Linked DNA regions of Homo sapiens: region 2 is linked to region 1. A link means that fine-mapping ties the variant in region 1 to the expression of a gene that starts in the linked region. Tissue or cell type: whole blood. Region 1 holds a variant in brackets; the other region holds the start of a gene. All regions are shown on one strand. Distances are between the middles of the regions.

Region 1 (4,163 bases):
GAATGGGCAACTGAGAGTCAGCGACTGACAATGGGGTTGACATTCCTAACTCTAACTCTAACTCTAATCTTCATGCTAACCCTAACCCTGAACCGGGGATGGGCAACTGAGAGTCTGCCACTGACAATGGGGTTGACATTCCTAACTCTAACTCTAACTCTAACTCTAACCCAAACCGTAACCCTAACAAGGGTTCTCTTGTGTTGGACACTCGATCCTTTAACAGGTAGGGCTGCATTTGGGAAAAGTCATCCTGCTAAGCCCCCAACCCTACACCCAGCCCCCATGGCCCTAGACTCCTGAACCTGATTCAGTTTCCTCCTCTCTCTTTACCCTGCTACAGGAAATACCAAATCTGCTTAATTAGACTGCCTGGCCTCTTTGACTTCCTGTGCCCTTGAAACAAAAAGACCAAAGGCTGGAGAGGCAGCCCTGATGGCTGTGCATGCACGGTCTGAACACTGATCTGCAGACTGGCTGGGGGATATAGCCTGTCAGCTGCTGTTAAAACAGACAAAATGGGCTGGGGCAGCCAGAACTGGCTCTGGTGGCAGGACTGGGACAGGCTGGGGACTTAGGGTCAGGCTAATCCAATGTGACAGGCTGAGCCTGCACAGCAAGGCTGGGCAGAGCATGGACCCTGAAGGCTGGCTTCCCACTGCGGGCAGAGAGTCCCTGCCATGGCCGGAGCTCTGAGAGCCCTGCCTGCCCAGCTCAGGAGGGGAGGAGGCCAGGTCCATCCATACCCAGAAGAGGCCATGCCCAAACCCGGCTCCCCGTCTGGGTCACCCGCCACAGTCCTCCCCCATAGACTTGCTTTTTACCACCTCACACCCACTCCAGTCTCTCTGCCAAACCCACAGCGCAGGACACACAGATCCAAGCCTCCCCCTAGCTCAAGATGCGGCAGCCCACCCTGTATCCCCTTGAAGCTGCAAGTGGGGTCCAGGCCCCCATCCAGTACTCAGTGTCCTCACCTCTCTCCTGCGCTTCAACTTCTGTGGGCCCAGTTCTGGGCATGTGCATTGGAAGCGCTCTCACCTCCCGCCAAACAGGAACTCTGCAATGTACCCTGCTGGGCCTGGGCACCTCTCTAGGCCACCTCAAGCCACCTGAGCTTGCTCCTCCTACCTCCCTCCAGTTTCCCAGCCTGGCCTGGAGCTCAGAACCCCATCCAGGGACTCCCGTCTGGGCCTGCCAGCATCCCTGCGCTAAAGTCGCACGACTCTCACCACCGGCTCTGACACTGTCTCCCTCCTGCACTGGTCAGGGCAGGGGGAACAGGCACAGAGCAGCAGCCAGCAAAGGTGTGTGTTCAAAGGACACACACCCCCGCCCTGCCAGCCCCTGCACCCCGGGAATCCTCACAGCCACCTCCCAGGGAAGGAGGCAGGGCAGAGAGAGGGCAGGGGAGTGTGAAGTAGGGAGGCTGAGAACTTCTGGAGCACAGGGGCCTGCAGGTAACCTTGCAGCCATGGGTAGGAGGATGCAGGGGAGCCGGGGCTAAGGTCAGGGTGGGTACTGTGAGTTGCCCTGACCGGCCTGCCCTGTGTGCTGTCAGGCTCCCAGCCAAGGTCTCTGGGAGCCCCTCAGCTCCCTGGAGGTCCCTCTGGCTCAGTTCATCAGGCCTCCCTTTAGGGCTCAAAGCAGCACTCACTTGTCTGAGGTGAGCCGGCAAGACGGTGTTGCTGTCCGTGGAGTAGGTGACGAAGGACATCCGCTTATTTGGGCTGAGACAGAATCAAGTACTGGTGAAAAGCCGGAGGCACCAGCTCAGAAGCCAGGGTGAGTGATGCCAATTCCCCACCTCCCACCCCAACTCTGTTATGAATTCCCTATTGTGATTGACAGGAAGGCTGACATGGTGACTTTGCGAACTGCAGCTCTTCCCAATGTCCTGCATGTTGACAACACCAGGGGGAGGCACAGGACCTGTGGAGGGGCTACAAGAGGAAGCCTCCATTTCCCTTATAACAGCCCTCACAGGGTCCCTTAAAACCACTAGACCCTGCCATTTGTTCACTGGAAGAGTTAGCCCAGGTGACTTAGGTGAGGACATTGCTGTGGATGAGGAGGTCAAGGACTGGGAGGCCAGAGTGTTGGCAATGGGAGGTTATTTGTGTGACACTGAAGTCCCCCAGGAGATGGCAGATCTGAAAGGAGATGGAAACTGTGGTGTTGCCAGAGTCTTTGTGAATGAGGGACATTCCGGTTCTCTACTGCTGTGTAACAGACCACCTACATTTAGAGACACAGAACAGGCCCATTTTATTACGCTCACAGGTTCTGAGGATGAGGCACTCAGGGCGAGTTAGGAGGGCTCCTCATGTCTGGGGCCCCATGACTTGAAGGATTGGGCACTGGAATTATCTGGAGGCTGCTCCACTCACAAGTGTGGCTCCTGGGCAGGAGGGCCCAAAAGCTGGGCTCAGCTGGGACTGTGAATGGAGACCCTGCATGTAGCCTCCTCGTATGACCTGGGCTTCCTCCCAGCATGGCAGCTTCAGGGT[T/G]CTTGGGTTTTTACAGGTGGCCCAGAGCTCCAAGAGTGAGTATTTCCAGTGAGCAAGGTAGAAATTGTAGAGCCTTTTATGATATCACCTTGGAAGTCACATAGTGTCACTTCCACTGTACTCTATTGGTCCAAGCAGTCACAGCTGCCAAAAGTCAATGGGAGAGAACACAGGCCCCCTCTCTAGGGCAGGAGTGTGGATGAGTTCATATCCCAGTGTCAAAACTGCTGTATGACCAACGCTTTGAATGGCAGAGATGTGTGGAAAAATGTGGGCACTGATGATGGGATTCAAGTTGGACTCAGGAAAGTTAGACTGTGATAGTTAGAAATACCTTAATTTTATTTTCTTCATTTTTGTATGCAGAAGTGATATATGATTAAAAATCTTTCTTCAATAAGTCTAAAATAGATCTTTCAACATATTTAACAGAAAAATTACAAGTGATAGCCAGGCAGGGTGGCTCATGCCTGTAATCTCAGCACTTTGGGAGGCTGAGGCTGGCAGATGACTTAAGGTCAGGATTTTGAGAGCTGCCTGGCCAGCATGGTGAAGCCCCATCTCTACTAAAAATACAAAAATTAGCCAGGCGTGGTGGTGCACATCTGTAATCCCAACTACTTGGGAGGCTGAGGCAGAAAAATCACTTGAATCTGGGAGGCAGAGGTTGCAGATTGCAAGATTGCGCCACTGCATTCCAGCCTAAGACTCTTTCTCAAAAAAAAAAAAAAAATTACAAGTAGTAAAAAGCACTGGGTTAGTGGACTTTGGGGGTTTTTTGTCTTGCTTTGGAGTGGTGTTTAAAATAATGGATCATTTTAAACAAGTGGTATTTTAGAATGGGTAAAGTTGGTGTAATTCCTCCGAAAGCATATTAGGTTTTCTTTCTTCACATCCTTCATGACTCTTGGTAGTGCCATATTTTATATTTTTTGATTTCTAATTATGTTTTGATGTCTAATCAATAGACAAAAGTATTGACTTAATTTGCAGTTTCCTAATTACTAAAGGGTTGTTCATCTGTTCACAGGATTTTGGGTCATTCATGTTCCCTCCTTTGTGAAGTGCCTATTCATGCCTCTGTGTCCATTCTTGATTTGGGTGTTTGTCTTTTGCACATTGATTCATTCACATTCTTTAAATTCTGAATACTAATCCTTTATCAATTGTTGCAAATATCTTCTTGCATGGTGTGGCTTGTTCTTTCACTCTATTTGTTGTCTCTTAGTAAAGCAAAAGGTGTTCATTTTAATCCAGTTGTTTGTCATTTTCTTTTTCTTTTTTCTTTTGTTGTTGGTATTTTTTGTTTGTTTTATTGTTTTGTTTTGTTTTGTTTTGTTTTGAGACAGAATCTCACTCTGTTGCCTAGAGTCCCACTCTGTTGCCCAGGCTGGAGTGCAGTGGTGTGATCTCGGCTCACTGCAACCTCTGCCTCCTGGGTTCAAGCAATTCTCTGCCTCAGCCTCCCAAGTAGCTGGAATTACAGGTGCCCGCCACCACGCCCAGCTAATTTTTGTATTTTTAGTAGAGATGGGGTTTCACCATCTTGGCCAGGCTGGTCTTGAACTCCTGACCTCGTGATCAACCCGCCTCGGCCTCCCAAAGTGCTTTAAGTTTTCTTAAACTTTAAGATTTGCTGTTTTGTATCTTAAG
Region 2 (4,163 bases), 69 kb before region 1:
ATTTTTAAAAGTCTTGCCTCCAATCCCCCTTAATATGCTTTATTACTCTCCATAGTACTAACCACAGTCTGGCACGTAGCAACCATTTATTTTCTGATCTCCCTTCAGAAAACATACTAGAAGGTAAGTTCCACATGGCGGGGACTTTGTCTTTTTGTTCACTGTTGTATAGTAGGTGTTCAACAATTAATTACTGAGTAAATGAATTCAGTAAGTATTTACATCTAGTCTACTATGTGCCGAGCCTTTTTTTAAAAAACTCACTATCTCAATTAGCCCTCATTAAAGTGGCTATTATCATCACCATTAATTAAAAAAAAAAAAAAAGCAGACTTGACAAGGTTAAATATATTACCTACAGTCACAAACTCCCAAGTAGAAGAGCCAAGATTTAATCCCAGATCTGAGTCCAAAGTCCCTAACCACACCTGGTATGTTGAAGGAATCATTAAGTATTAAGGTATTATGTATTCATCCAACAACTATTTATTGAGTACCTAAACTGACACTACTGTGATAGTCCCTGAGAACACAATGGTGAGCTTGCCACCTAGAGGAGAACTCGTGTCATAGATTCACCAACCAAGCAGAAAATACTAATTCTTTGAAATAAGAGACTGAGTTCAAAGTCCATCAGCAGCAGCAATGACTGGCTCTGAATGCTAACACTATGTGAGGGAAAGTATTATAAAACACTAACTTAGGGACTCTCAACCGGGGGAGGGATATGTGTCAGGATATCCTATGGAGTTTTATGAAACCCCTACACCGGATCCTGAGATTCTGGCACAGCTATACTGATTTAATAAAAAAAAAAAAAAGGGGGGGGTGAGGGGTACTATGTAGTTCTAAAATATCTTCTCTCCCTTTGAGAAGGACATCTTCCTCCCCTTCCATAGCTCAACATGTTTTTCCATTTCCGAAATGCCTGTTTGCACAAAGGTAATAATGTAATTGTAGAGATTTATTTAGATAAAAACTACCACAAAACTTTCAAAGAGTAGGATTTTCCTTAGAGACCCAAGGACAAAGGCTCCCTGGAAGGCAGGAAAGGAGAAAATGAAAGGAACGTTATTGTGCTGGACTTTACATACATAATCTCATTTACTTATCTGAACAAATCTGCAAGCTAGCAAATCTTCAAATGAGAAAACCAAGTAAATTGCCTAAGCCACTGCATCCTTAGGGTAAGTCTTTCTCAAACGGTCTCAAGTACTTTAAAGTTTGGAAATGTCACACTAGGATCTCGGTATAAAAATGGGCCAACTATGACTTCCTGTGCCATCCTCATTCCAATAAGTAACTCAAGAGTCTCTATAAACTTAGTTCCAAATTACCAAGTGCGTGGTGGAAAGCTAAGTCCATCCAAAAGGCAATTACTGTGGTGAACCCGACCCTGATTAGAAAGTGACACAAAAAGGCACAGTTAAAAGTAAAAAAGCTCTGCCTTTGGGGTCAGATAAATTCAGCACTCTGACTTCTGTCATTCTACTTCTGCCATTCTTGATGGCATCATTCCATGTTAAATCCCGTGCCACGTAAGATTATGATTATTGTTTTCCCCACAACAAGAATTTAGTTCCATGAGAATTAGGTGTCCATTTTTTTCATTGCTATCCTCAACATCCTGAACATACAGGCACCAAATAAATGATTGCTGGTGGAATGAACCAATGAATGAGCAAGCCTTACTCTTCTCAGCTGTAAAACAGAGATAATCAAGCTACTTTTCGGGATTATTGGGAGAATTAAATGTGACAGTATGTGTTTGGCACACAGAGGGCCAAAAAAACCCAATATCTTCTTTGCATTTCCACCTGACAAGCTAGAAATGGATTATGTTCTGTGCCCGTCCGGCAAAACAGACCTCGCCTCGCCCCACATCCAAGCAAGAGGCGAGAGAAACAGGAAACTTGGAGCTGTCACACCTAAAGAGAGGGGAAGGCCGGCGGGGAGCAGGAGGTGTCCGAGCCGGGTGTGAGGAGGGTCGGGGAGGAAAGGACAGGCCCACGGCCGGGCACGAGGAGGGTCGGGGAGGAAAAGACAAGCCCGGGCCCGGCGTGTGGCGGGAAGGCGAGAACGTAGGCCCGGGCCCGGCGTGTGGCCGGAAGGGGAGAAGACAGGCCCGGGCCCGGCGGGCAGGCAGGAAGAGGTGCCCGGGCCTGGCGTGTGGAGGGGAGGGAAGGGAAGGAGAAGGCAGACCGGTCCCGGTGTCGGTCGGGTCGGGAAGGGGCGGACAAGCCCGGGCCCAGCGGGCCAGCGGTCATCGAGCCTCCACCCGGCCCACAGCGTTCTTACCAGGTCCGAGTGCCTCTCCAGGCGATCCGAGGAGACCTTGGGTGGACTGAGACACGGCCCCACACTAACCTACGGCCCAAAGGCAGAGTTCTCGCGACAACACAATCTTCCTCCCACACCTCTCGCCATACGTCTGACAGTCTCGCGAGATCTCCGCTCGGGTCAGCCAGAAGCCCTTGACTGCCCTCTAGGAGGCGCAGAGCGCAGGCGCACACTCCCTCCCCGCCCTTGCAGTGTCCTTTAGTCCTTCGTGAATAAATCGAAATTAAATGAAGCAAATGCTTTTTTGAAGGCAAATTTGGTGCCAAGGACCATCCTAAGTGATTCAGATGGCCTCACAAGGTAGATATTATTTAGTTTGAACATTCAGATGCAAAAATGAATATCGTAAGACACAAAAGGCCATATGTTGTATGATTCCACCTTTGCCACATTTGTTTTTCTAAGGATTGAGTTAATAGGCCGGGAGCAGTGGCTCACGCCTGTAATCCCAGCACGTTGGGGGCCGAGGCGGGCGAATCACGAGGTCGGAAGATGGAGAGCATCCTGGCTAACACGGTGAAACTCCTTCTCTACTAAAAATACAAAAAAATTAGCCAGGCGTGGTGGCTCGCGCGTATAGCCTCAGCTATTCGGGAGGCTGAGGCAGAACTGCCTGAACCTGGGAGGCAGAGGTTGCAGTGAGCCGAGATCGCTCCACTGCACTCCAGCCCGGGCGACAGAGCAAGACTCCGTCTCAAAAAAAAAAAAAAAAAAAATTGAGTAAATAAATAAATGGCAGAACCCAGATTCTTTTTTTCTTTTCTTTTTTCTTTGAGACAGGGTCTGACTCTGTCGCTCAGGCGCAGTGGCGCAATCTCGGCTTGCTGTAACCTCTGCCTCCTGTGTTCAAGCGATTCTCCTGCCTCAACCTGCTGAGTAGCTGGGATTACAGACATGCGCCATGATGCCCGGTTTTTAAATTTTTTTGTAGAGACAGGGTCTTGCTGTGTTACCCAGACTGGTCTCAAAGTCCTGGGCACAAGCGATCCTCCCACCTGATCTAGGATTACAAGCATGAGCCACCACGTCCAGCCTACAGCCCAGATTATAACCCACATTATTTACTTGTGACTAGATGTTAAATAGCACTTCTTTCTGTCTCAGTTTTGACAGAGGTCCTCCATACTCAGTTGCCAACTGCTTCCCCACATTCCGCAGCAAAGGAGGTGATCATAGCAGGGTTTTATGGATCTCATCCAAGAGTGACTCTGCTACAAGGGGCAAGGCAACCTCATTAGAAAACAATAGGAGACATAGATTACGATGCAGAAGCTAAGATAACAGTCATAGGCTGTGAGTGGAAGGGGAGCTGTGGAGAGAGAAGCCCACAAAAGTCCCATGAGGAAGTCAGCCTAGAACATGACCTCAGGCAGAAGGAGCCCTTAACTCTCCTGTCCCCCATTCCCTCTCAATTCAGATGCAGCCCCTGGAATGAGACTTTGTGTAACTCAAAATGTAACTCAGACCACTTTTTTAAATTATCTGAAGGTGAACAAGAAAGCTAAGGGACCTGTCTAGATTGCTCAACTGGCCCACATAGCATGTTTAAACAGATAGGGGACAGGGGAAAATAAAGCTCTTTATCAGTTGCCCACTGATTGTTCAACAGATGACTGTTTGCTCATTTCTGATCTGTCACGTACACACAGCTGAGTCCAAGCCCCAGGAGAACAGGGTTCTCTCCTGAAATCTCTCTGGTTCACTGCTGTATCCCCAGGTCTAGAGCACTGCCTGGCCCAGGTGCTCAGTACAGACCTGTTGAGTGAACAGATGTTCTTTAACACAGAAACAGTTAAAAGAGAATCAATGTTGTCGTTGTCTTA

The links. PIP is the estimated chance that this variant, and not a neighbour inherited with it, causes the effect.
Region 2: NCOA4 starts here. The variant in region 1 is fine-mapped to the expression of NCOA4 in whole blood (TOPMed, PIP above 0.99).

Annotation. Positions count from the first base shown.
Region 1 is chr10:46,096,751-46,100,913 of GRCh38, forward strand. No RefSeq gene overlaps it. Among named protein-coding and RNA genes, the nearest start is that of MSMB, 53 kb to the left of the region's middle. RefSeq lists enhancers at 309-603, 329-623. The variant T/G (reference allele first, on the strand shown) is at 2,511.
Region 2 is chr10:46,028,228-46,032,390 of GRCh38, forward strand. NCOA4 (nuclear receptor coactivator 4) reads right to left here and starts at 2,396. Exons shown (of 10, transcript NM_001145263.2): 1 at 2,299-2,396. It overlaps LOC105378287 (a long non-coding RNA gene), which reads left to right and starts at 2,548. Exons shown (of 3, transcript XR_945923.4): 1 at 2,548-2,640. RefSeq lists a silencer at 1,922-2,011 and an enhancer at 2,372-2,441.